Regions from separate parts of the Homo sapiens genome. Here region 1 is linked to region 2. Evidence: fine-mapped expression QTL. Tissue or cell type: whole blood. Region 2 holds a variant in brackets; the other region holds the start of a gene. All regions are shown on one strand. Distances are from middle to middle.

Region 1 (5,810 bases), 440 kb before region 2:
GGCAGAGGTTGCAGTGAGCCGAGACTGCACCACTGCACTCCAGCCTGGGCAACAGAGCGAGACTCCGTCAGGAGGCTTTCTTTCAGAACAACTAACCGAAAAATCATGCAAATTTAGAGTGAAAAAATGTAAAATAAGAAATTTAAAGCATTACAAGATTAATTTTAATGTAACTGGTCAGTTTGCACATCTGTAAAATGACAGTTTGAAACTAAGTGATTTCTAACATCCGGTCTACTTCAAAGTCTAAAATTCTATGATACGCAAATTTCTTAAACTTTGAGTTAAATATACTAGGTTGTTTAAAAACTAAATCTAAGCTTATTCTGATAATTCAAATAACCCTGAAATGTTAGAATATCAATATCCCATAAACGATTCAGCAGTACTGTTTTCAGACTTCCAGTTAGTATGTGTCCAGAACAAATAAAGAGCAAAAATAGCTATTTTCTCTTACTTTGACTGCTAATACTAATAGCATACAAAATAGCTACTCACTGAGAAGGCATCATAAAAGGCTCTATTGTTACAGAATCCTAAAAGTCTCACGAAAATAAGAGAAACATCATCAGCTAACATCACCAGGCCAAACACAGCTCATTGAAAATCTTAAATTCTGAAATATTTAGATTAAATGAAAACTTCGAGATATTTATCTGTTACGCAAAACAGGTAGCACTGCTTCACAATCTGAACATCACCGTATAGCTCCTTTGGTTAAACAGAAAAAAACTTCCCATGGTACTCTTTCCTCCTAATTCTGCCATTCTTACTATGCACAATGCGTATTTTCCATGTACTGTAAGAGAGATGCACTACACAGAAGTATCCATGGGGACGAAATTTTATCTACACTGAAATTTAATGTGGGATAAGTAAGCTTATCATAATGGAGTTTTACACAGAATGTGTATTTCTCAATGTAAAATGATTTTGTGAAGTAAAGGGGGAAAAAATAGAGGAAGTTTGTTTCCTTAGAATCTCCACAATTACGCACTTTATTCTTAAAATAAGGGACTGGTCTGCAGGATTAACAAATCTTACAGTTCAAAGACAGATAAACATTGGAAGGCCAAAAGAAGTAAGCAAAATAAAAACGATTACCATTAAAAACTCTTCCCTTGGCAGTTTTCAGAGAGGGTTAAAAAAAAAAAAAATTTTCCTGATTGTCAGGCTGACCCTGCTGTCATATTTGCCATTTTTATAAACCCACTAGTTTGATCAAGAGCCCTATCTTTAAGAATAACTTTTAAACCATGCATTTTTAGAGTTAATGAGGCAATAACACTATAGTATTACAGTTGTAGCTCAACAACTGTTAGATACTACAGATTAGTGATCCAGAAGATAATCAAACTTTATCAGCAAAGTAGCAACCACACCCCTTAAAAACAGAACTCACCCTGTGCTCCATTAACTTCCATAAAGGGAACTTCGATGAAAATCGATTACTTCATTGCTTGGAACTAGCATGTTTGTTTTGGAATTACACTAACGTTTTGTAAACACTGTCTCACGGTAAAGCTAATGACTTTACCTCTTTCTGAAACAGTTTTAGGGAAGAAGGCACCATATATTACGGTGAAACTGGGTCTTAGTTTACATAGCGATTATTTAAAAAATTCACTTCCACTGTGCATTACAAGAATTAAAGCCGTTTAAAAAACTCAACCAAAGCCCAATGACAATGTATTACTCTAGGAAAAGTGTGTCCTTTGGGTTCTAAGGCATTAAATTGGAATTTAATATTAAAATAGAATTCAACGGCTAAGTATCCAGTTTCCCCCAATCACTTAATTTTTCAAAACCCAGAAAGGGCCTGTTTGCGAGTATTGTGAAAACCTGTGGAAAGAGAGGCTTTGGAGGGGAACGGTCGAATTAAAATAAATGCAGAGAGCAAAGAGAACTCCGAGTTCTTTGAACTCCCCCAGGCTGAACAGGACGAGAAGGAACCCTACCTGCCAGCGGCCATAGGTGAGGAGGACCATAGAAATGGGGATGGCGGTGCCGGACATGGCATGGGTGGAGGGCATGCTGTACTCAGAGTTGTAGAAGACCTCCAACTTGACCACGGGCGGCGAGGCGGGCCTCGGCCAGCGGATGATGTCCTTGGTGCACTGGCCCAGGTACATGACCAGCACCCAGATGACCACGAGCCTCCGGCCCACCAGAGGGTCCAGGTTCCAGATCCAGAAGGGGAAGAACAGGATGTAGAAGAGTTCGTTGCCCAGCTCCGTGCCGAAGCAGAACAGGCAGTAGAGCGGCCAGTTGCTCACGCGGGCCAGCTGGCCCTCCTCGCCCGTCAGCGAGTTGCGGCGCAGAGCGCCCGCGCGCCGCGGCGAGGCCGGGCCCAGCTCGGCCGCCAGCCCGTTCCGCACGCCGTTGGGGGCGCCGCCGCCGTCCGGCTTGGCCGGGCACTGATTGCGGTCGCTCCCGGGAGGCTGGGGGCCTCCAGGCGCCCCTGGCTGCCGCCCTCGCAGTCGAGGGTCTCCGGCGAGAGGCGCCTCCGCTTTCTCATCCTCCCTCCGGTCTGCTGAGCGGCGCGGCGGCGCTTCCACCCCGCACAGCCGCTGGAAACGGGCCACTTTCTGCGGGTCCTGCAGACGGCCAACCAGCTGGGCCAGGCGCTGCCTCAGCGACATGATAACGGAACCCCCGGGAAGGCGGGCCGGCCTCCGGCGCAGCCCCGAACTGTCCCCGCGCTCCTGGCCAGCGGCAGCGGAACCGGCACAGCGCTCTACCCTCCGGAGTCTGCCGGGTGACGGCGCCACAGGCCGCGCGCCCCCGCCCCGCGCGCGCCGCGCCCCGCCCCGCCCAGCCCCGCCCCCACCCGGGCTCCCTGAGGGGCCGGGCCGCGCGGGTCCGCCCTGAGCGCATCCGGCCGTGGCTTGGCGCTGAGGATCGGCGGGCGGCCGCTTTGAGGTCCCGGGTAATATCCACCAGCAGGCGTCGCGGCGTACGTCTGGTGGGACGCGGCGTGTCCCCCTGCTCCACCTTCAGCCCTTCTTCTCCGCGGGCTAGTGTCGCCGGATTCCCTCAGCCAGAAGTTGACTTAAAGAGGCCACGATCCCGGTGCCAGCTTGCGCAATGCCTGTGACCAAGCAGCCGGGCATCCTGCTGGCACAGAACCAAATGGTGAATGATCAATGAAGGCGAAGCAACTACCATGAGTTCGGAATCATTCGACTCAAGTAATTAACAAGTAATTACAGAGCTGTCCCAGGCGACTGATGTTCGGAAAACCATGTGCCAATTGACCAGTGGTGACAAGACTACATGTAGATCCCAAGACAGGGCCAGGTGATATTAACAGGTGTGGTCTGCAAAAGAAAAGCCAGCCACCTACAAATTCAAAATACTGTGTCATTTATCAAATATTTTGGTATATGTTAAGGGAGCACAGGTGTTCTTAAGTGTAAAATTTCCTTTTCCTAGATTCTAATACCTAGAGGGCTTGCACAGAATAAATGTAGAGAATGAATGCAGTGTATAGATTTTTGAGTTTGGTAACGTTAATTTAGACGCTTAACTTCCGTGTCTCACAAGTTACCAACTTGACTTCTAGCTAGAGCAGTTTATAAGGTCTCTGAACTCCTCAGGTCAGGTGAATGTCTTTTATATATACCTAGAGAGAGAGAGATGAGACAGGGTCTCGCTATATTGCCCAGGCTGGTCTCCAACTCCTGGGCTGAAGTGATTCTCCTGCCTTGGCCTCTCAAAGTGCTGTGTTTACAGGCGTGAGCCACCACACCCGCCATGATCAGGTGAATGTCTGTAATTAAAGAATGTGAACTACTTCCAAGAAACAGGCTTGAAATTGTCCCATGCCCTTAAAACAGTAGAAATACTTTCCTTCAGGCGTGGTAGTTCATGCCTATAATCTCAGCACTTTGGGAGGTCGAGGAGGGAGGATGGCTTGAGTCCAGGAGTTTGACAACAGCCTGGGCAACATAGGGAGATCCCACCTCTACAAAAAATGAACAAAATTAGCCGGGCAGGGCTGGGCACAGTGGCTCACGCCTGTAACCCCAACACTTTGGGAGGCCAAGGCGGGCGGATCACCTGAGGTCGGGAGTTCAAGACCGGCCTGACCCACATGGAGAAACCCCGTCTCCACTAAAAATACAAAATTAGCCGGGCGGGGTGGTGCATGCCTGTAATCCCAGCTACTCGGAGGCTGAGGCAGGAGAATTGCTTGAACCAGGGAGGCAGAGGTTGCGGTGAGCCGAGATCGCGCCATTGCACTCCAGCCTGGGCAACAAGAGTGAAACTCTGTCTCAAAAAAAAAAAAAGAAAATTAACCGGGCATGGTGGCCCACACCTGTAGTCCCAGATAACTGGGGGACTGAGGCGGGAGGATTATTTAAGCCCGGGAGGTCAAGGCTGCGGTGAGCCCTGATTGTGCCATTGCAATTCCAGCCTGGGTAACAGAGTAAGACCCTATCTTAAAAAAAAAAAAAAAAAAAAAATTTCATTTCGCAGGGACAGGTACTCTCCTCCTCCCACTCCACTTGCTAGGCTGTGGCCATAGAAAGAGGAATAAATCATCACCCATGCTCTCAAGTTGTTCACAGTTTAGGGGAGATAAAGAAAGACAGGACTACTTCTAGAGTATAGAGAAGATGGCAAGTGTAAAACAGACATAAACAGCATGCCTCAGAAAGGAGGACAAGTTTGACTAGGAACAGGAAGAAAGGTGTTAGGAGGTGATCCTGTAGAGCTGGATTGTTTTACAGAGCAAAATATGAATAGGTGAAGAAGCCCATTTTAGGAAGAGAAAGTGAAGGAAGATAGGGATATGCAAAAATGTATTTGGTAAACAATAGTCCATAGAGACCAGGTGCAGTGGCTCACTCCTTTGATCCCAGCACTTTGGGAAGCTGAGGTGGGAGGATCACTTGAGGTCAGTAGTTTGACACCAGCCTAGGCAACATGGCAAGACCCTGACTCTACAAAAATATTTTCTAAAAAATTAGGTGGGGGGCTGGTGCAGTGGCTCATGCCTGTAATCCCAGCACTTTGGGAGGCCAAGGCTGGTGGATCACTTGAGGTCAGGAGTTTGAGACCAGCCTGGCCAACATGGTGAAACCCCATCTCTACTGAAAATACAAAAATTAGCCAGGCATGGTGGCAGGTGCCTGTAATCCCAGCTACACGGGAGGCTGAGGCAGGAGAATGGCTTGAACCTGGGAGGTGGCAGTTGCAGTGAGCCAACATTGTGCCTCTGCACTCCAGCCTGGGCAATAGAGCTAGACTCAGACTAAAAATAAAGAAAAATAAAAAAATTAGCTGAGTGTGATGGCACATGCCTGTAGCCCTAGCTACTTTTAAGGCTGAGGTGGGAGGATTGCTTGAGCCCAGGAGTTAGAGGTTACGGGGTGCTACGATTGTACCACTGCACTCCAGCCTGAGCAGCAGAGTAAGACCTTGTCTCAAACAGTAAAAATTAAAAAATGAAAAAAAAAACCAAAAAACAATAGCATATAGCATAGAGTAGCAAGGGTGATTGGAAATGGGATTACAAAGGGAGGATAGGATTAGGTTGTAAATCCTTGAATACCAAAGGGATTTAATTTTGTAGGCAGTGGGAGCCATGGAAGGCTTTTAGGCTAGGGAGTGACACCATCAGAACTGTGTTTTAGAAAGATAACTGGGAAAGAAATCAAAGACGATTGTCAGAGGTCAGAGAGTGAAGGCTAGGTAAATAATTAGAAGATTATTGCAGTCATCAGGTGAGAAACAATGACAGCCTGAACTAGGACCTTGGTTCTGGGGGATTGGAAGCGGGGGATAGATTTGAATGAAATTTT
Region 2 (5,810 bases):
AGAAGTTGGGATTTTTTTCATGTAAATTGTACTTATAAAAACTGAATCTGAGCTGCTATTACCCACTGATAGTTATTTTTTCTACATGTCGATGTCTGGATTCTATAACCATTTGTTTTTCCCCAGACCAGAATTTATTACAGAATTCTCAAAGCTGACGGATCGGTGGCAGAATGCTGTCCAGGGTGTTCGGCAGAGGAAGGGTGACGTTGATGGGCTGGTGAGGCAGTGGCAAGATTTCACTACTTCTGTGGAGAACTTGTTTCGCTTCCTCACTGACACCAGCCACCTGCTATCTGCAGTGAAGGGCCAGGAGCGCTTCAGCCTCTACCAAACCAGAAGTCTGATCCATGAGCTGAAGGTAGTGTATGCATCGTAGCAGTGTGAGAACCACAGGGTGGTCATTGTTTGCAAGATGTTCATTCACCTTTGGTTTAATGTTTTTGATGATGATGTGATCCAAGTGGGCTCTCTGCAGTGTGAGGCCAGCAAGGTGCAGTCACCACCCCCCACAGCCCAGTCCCTAGCATTGTGGGGTTGGAAACCCGATATTACCCATTCATCCAGAAATACTAGGGTTCTCTTGGGCCATGAGAGGAGGCATGGAGTGGAGATGGGTGAATAAATTGGGGGAGGTTTAGGGCAACAGACTCAAACCACCCAGATTCTTAAGCCACTGACTAATGTATAAATTGACCATTAGTGTAGTAATGTACAGTGATGGCATTGTTTACTCTTGAAGGGCAAATTCAATGGGTACAAAAAAAATAGAATGAATAAGACCTACTATTTGATAGCACAGTAGGGTGACTATAGTCGATAATAATTTAATTATATATTTTTAAATAACTTAAGGAGTGTAATTGGATTATTTGTAACTCAAAGGATAAATGCTTGAGGGGATGGAAACCCCGTTCTCCATGATGTGCTTATTGGACATTGCATGCCTATATTTAAAAACCTCATGCACTCACAAAATTTTAAAAACTGATTTAAAAAAAATAAAAATAAAGGGGCAAATTCATTCAGCCAACAAAGCTTTCCAAAAGAAACTTGCCTGATGAGCACAGGATTAGCATAGGTGGTTGGCATGTCCCATGGAGCTGTAGAGCTACTCTCCACCTTAGAGAAGCCTCTCAACAAACACCACCCTCCTGAAATCCTGTACAGCCCTCACTCATTATGCAATCATCGCATATTAATTGAGTACCTTCTCTGTGCCAATCACTGTCCTAAGTGCTGGGTGTATTCTGTGGATGGAGAGAAGACCTTCGCTCTCATAAGGGCAGACAAAGTAGTAAACCAGAATAATTAATCAGATAAATTAATAAATAATAAAATATCAGATTGTAATAAGACTTACGTAGATCATTAAAACAGGGCCAGTAGAGATGGGGATGTGTGGCTCCTTTAGATTGGGTTGTCTCTGGCCATGTGACATTTAACCTGGGACTGAATGATGAGAAGGAGCCAGCCATGCAAGATCTAAGGAAAGAGCCTTTCAGACTGAAGGAGAGGCTTACTCCAAGTCCCCAAGATGAGAACAAGCTCAGCACAGAGGAACGGCAAAAAGGCCAGTGTGACTGGCGCAGAGCTGGCAAGGCAGTAGTGGCAGGAGGTGAACTAGAAAGGCGGGTAGGGAGGAGTGTTTTGCAGGTTGGGTGTGGCAGCTGGATTACCTGGTCTGGCTGGAACCAGGGAGCCTTTGAAGCATTTCAGCTGAGGGAGAGGGCAGCATGACACTGTTTGCTTGTTTTTCTTTTTTTTGGGACGGAGTCTCACTCTGTCGCCCAGGCTGGAGTGCAGTGTTGCGATCTTGGCTCACTGCAACCTCTGCCTCCCAGGTTGAAGCAATTCTCGTGTCTCAGCCTCCCAAGTAGCTGGGATTACAGGCGCCCGCCACCATGCCCAGCTAATTTTTGTGTTTTTAGTAGAGACAAGGTTTCACCCTGTTGGCCAGGCTGGTCTCGAACTCCTGACCTCAGGTGATCCACCCACCTCAGCTTCCCAAAGTGCTGGGATTACAGGCGTGAGCCACTGTGCCCAGCCCCATATTTTTTAAAGATCACTCTGGCTGTTCCTGATTGTAGGGGAGCTAAAGGAAAAGTAGGAATCCTAACATCTCACTTACCTATCGCTGCATAATGACACTCATCATTCTGTCTCGTCATTCTTGGGGTTGACAGGAGTTGGTGGTTCCTGCTTGGGGTCTCTCAGGCAGTTGCAGTCAGATGGTGGCTGGGGCTGGTGTCATCTGAAGCTCACTCACATGACTGATGCTTAGGCTGGAACAACTGGAGCAGCAAGGAGCTGGGACAGTGGAGCTCCTCTCCTTGGGCATCATTCTCTGTTGTGTTACCACGTGAGGGCTTCCAGTGGCCAGACTTCTTATATGGTACCCCAATGGTTTCAAAGATTCTTATCCCGAGAACAAGCTGTATTGCCCTATAAACCCAACCTCAGAAGTCACATATATCGCTTCTGCCACACTCTAACAATGAAGGCTATCATATGTGTCCACATGAGTTTGAGAGGAGGGGACAGAGGTGCCACAGTTTGATGAGAATTGGCTGAAATCCCAACACTTTGGGAGGCCGAGGTGGGAGGATCCCTTGAGCCCAGTTTGAGACCAGCCTGTGTACAACATAGTGAGACCCCTGTCTCTACAAAAAAATTCAAAATTTAGCCAGGTGTGGTGGTGCACGCCTGTACTCCCAGCTGCTCAGGAGGCTGAGGCAGGAGGGTCACACTTGAGCCCGGGAGGTTGAGGCTGCAACGAGCCATGGTCACAC[C/A]ACTGCACTCCAGCCTGGGTAACAGAGCAAGACCTGTCTGGAAAAAAAAAAAAAGGTTATCTTTGGAATTTCAGTGATCGCTGGAGGCAGTCATCTTGAAAGAGCCTATTTGGGTGTGGTTACATCTGGGTCTTCTTTTCTGCAATAAGATAATGAGGTAACAGGGAGGGAAAGAAAAAACAATCATTCTCCTTGGTGAGTCCGGGTCTTAGGCAGATAAAGGACTTCAGCTTCTGTAGGAGACGCAGTGCGTTAGGGTAGAGAGACCCTGAGACTTCTTCAGTTCAGCGTGTCAAAACACCGTATTTTGGAGTGTCGGTTTGTGAGTCTGGTAAAGGAAAAGCTAGATGAAGGACGACTCTGGGTTGAAGCTCAAGCATCTTGGTGAATAGTGTGCTGTTGACAGAGTTAGGGAAGACTAAGGGAGGAGCAGGTCTAATACGAGTGGCTCATTTGCGCAGCACAATATGTTGGAGAGATGCACGTGGAGTGCCTGTGGTCCAGTTGCTGTTTCTCTTATTTGTGTGCTGCTCCTGAGGGTGCATTTGGCTTTCCTCCTTTGGGTATGGGTGATCTTCAGGCTTCTCAGAAATGCCTTTGTAAATTAGTGATGCTCTGTTGATGTTTATCAGCTCCCATTTTGGAAAAATGCCCACACTTTGTCTCCTTCAAGAAATTTCAAGGTGAAGGAAATAATATTTATGTATTATTTATTTATTTACTTATTTTTTTAGAGATAGGTACTCACTCTGTCTCCCAGGCTGGAGTGCAGTGGCGTGATCATAGCTCACTGTAACCTCAAACTTCTGGTGAGGCTACCTCGGCCACCCGAGTAGCTGGGACCACAGGCACTCACCAGAATGCCCAGCCAGGAAAACATATTTAGAACAGACAAAAACTATTTAATTTTTCCTCTAAAACCAAATGCCTTTGGGAGTATGGATCAATTTTAAAGTTTTTACTTTATTTTTGTATTATAAATACCTAGTTTCAATCTCTTTAAAGAACGCCCATGTAGCCAGGTGTGGTGGCGCATCTCTTAAAAAACAGGACCTTCGCTACTCTCTGCACACTGCCTGCGGAGCGGCCCTGCTCTGCAGGAGCAGTCACGGAGCTGTAACACCGCCACTAAAATATAGAAAAAAATAAAAATAAACAAGACCTTGTCTCTTAAATTTTTTTTTTTTTTTTTCCTTGAGACAAAGCGTCACTCTGTCACCCAGGCTGGAGTGCAGTGGTGTGATCTTGGCTCACTGCAATCTCTGCCTCCCAGGTTAAAGTGATTCTTGGGACTCAGCCTCCCAAGTAGCTGGAATTACAGGCATCCACCACCATGCCTGGCTAATTTTTGTATTTTTAGTAGAGTCAGGGTTTCTCCATGTTGGCCAGGCTGGTCTCGAACCCCTGAGCTCAACTGATCTGCCTGTCTTGGCCTCCCAAAGTGCTGGGATTACAGGCATGAGCCATCACTTCGGGTCTAAAACTATTGTTTTTAAATTGTTTTTAATTTTCAGAAAGCCTACATGATATTCGGATGAAATTTTTTAAAGCTGCGCCTTTGGGGCACACATCAATGTACATGTTTATGTGCTCATAAAAAGCTTAAGAAATGTATATTTTTTGTATTTTACCCTTTCTCGCGTTCTTTCCTTTTACATTTGTTTAGCGTAATATAAGGTCTGTTACTTGATTTCAGGTCTGTTACTCCATTCACTTTCTTAATACTCTTAGATCCATTTACCTTGCAGGCTATTATTCTATGATGTATATTTTTTTATTTCTCTGTGCTGCTAATCATTACACTGAGAATCTTATCTCACCAATCTTTGGAAATTATTTTAAGAACACCTCACTTAGTGGTATGCTTATCTACTCAGTGTAAAACATTAGCTTTTGATGTGTGTGTGTATGTACATTCTGACCCAATTTGTCTAATTTATATCTAGTTTAACTCTTAAGAAAAGCTCTGAAGGAAATATACACAGGCACACACAATCACATTTTGAACACATCAGAAACCTAAGCAAATTACTTCTCTTTTTTTTCTTAGAATAAAGAAATTCATTTTCAAAGGAGGCGAACTACCTGTGCCCTAACCTTGGAAGCTGGAGAAAAGTTACTGCTCACAACTGACCTGAAAACTAAAGAGTCTGTGGGTAGGAGAATCAGTCAACTTCAGGACAGCTGGAAAGACATGGAGCCCCAGCTGGCAGAGATGATTAAGCAGTTCCAGAGCACTGTAGAGGTAAACTCACCACTTACTTTTCCATTCATGATATTCAAATTCAGTACATAGATTTTCATTTGTGGTGTGAAAATGGAAATGGTTTTAGGAAACTATAGTATCATGAGTTTCCAACTCAAGCTGTAATCTGTAAGTCATGCCAGTTACTTAATGTGAAATGATGATATAGCATTGCAAGAGCTCAATGTTTAGTATTTAAATACTTGAGATTCTATTAAGATACTTACTTTTATGAAACAGGAAACATATTCAATGAAAGTTCAATACATAAAACTAATGTTCCATGTATGGAACAGACAGAAACACTTCATTTTTCTGCTATCATCAGAGAATGCACTTTTCCATATAAGTGAATTTTCCAAATAATGTATGATTATACCTTTAAGAACTACAGTGTTATATTTTGAGTCACTGTTAGGAAAATCATTATTGTTTTGTTATGCTAAGATACCAAGTTGTTCTCAAGGCCTCTGAATTACTTTGAACCTGTGGCCCTCCCTGAACTACTGTGCTCTTTGAGTTCTGATATGGTTTTTATCATTTTTCTTTCTCTCCTCTTAATGTCAAACTGTCTATTTTTACTTTGTCTTTCTCCAAGCTCACTTACTTCTTATAGCCCACTCTCTCTAGTCTGTCGTGTGTGCCAAAACTAGATAACCAAACTTACCAGACATATTTTTCTGAATTAAGAGTAAATATATGCTGAGTTAGGGCTTGAAAATTTCTCCTGTGAATAAAGTATCTGAATTTTATTTGATATATGGACTATATGG

Evidence for each region. PIP is the estimated chance that this variant, and not a neighbour inherited with it, causes the effect.
Region 1: SGPP1 starts here. The variant in region 2 is fine-mapped to the expression of SGPP1 in whole blood (INTERVAL, PIP 0.90).

The regions. Positions count from the first base shown.
Region 1 is chr14:63,725,303-63,731,112 of GRCh38, forward strand. SGPP1 (sphingosine-1-phosphate phosphatase 1) reads right to left here and starts at 2,763. Exons shown (of 3, transcript NM_030791.4): 1 at 1,959-2,763. The coding sequence starts at 2,642. RefSeq lists enhancers at 1,909-2,410, 2,055-2,104, 3,065-3,254 and silencers at 2,365-2,464, 2,755-2,854.
Region 2 is chr14:64,170,102-64,175,911 of GRCh38, forward strand. It overlaps SYNE2 (spectrin repeat containing nuclear envelope protein 2), which reads left to right. Exons shown (of 116, transcript NM_182914.3): 94 at 127-361; 95 at 4,843-5,037. Among named protein-coding and RNA genes, the nearest start is that of MIR548H1, 78 kb to the left of the region's middle. The variant C/A (reference allele first, on the strand shown) is at 2,793.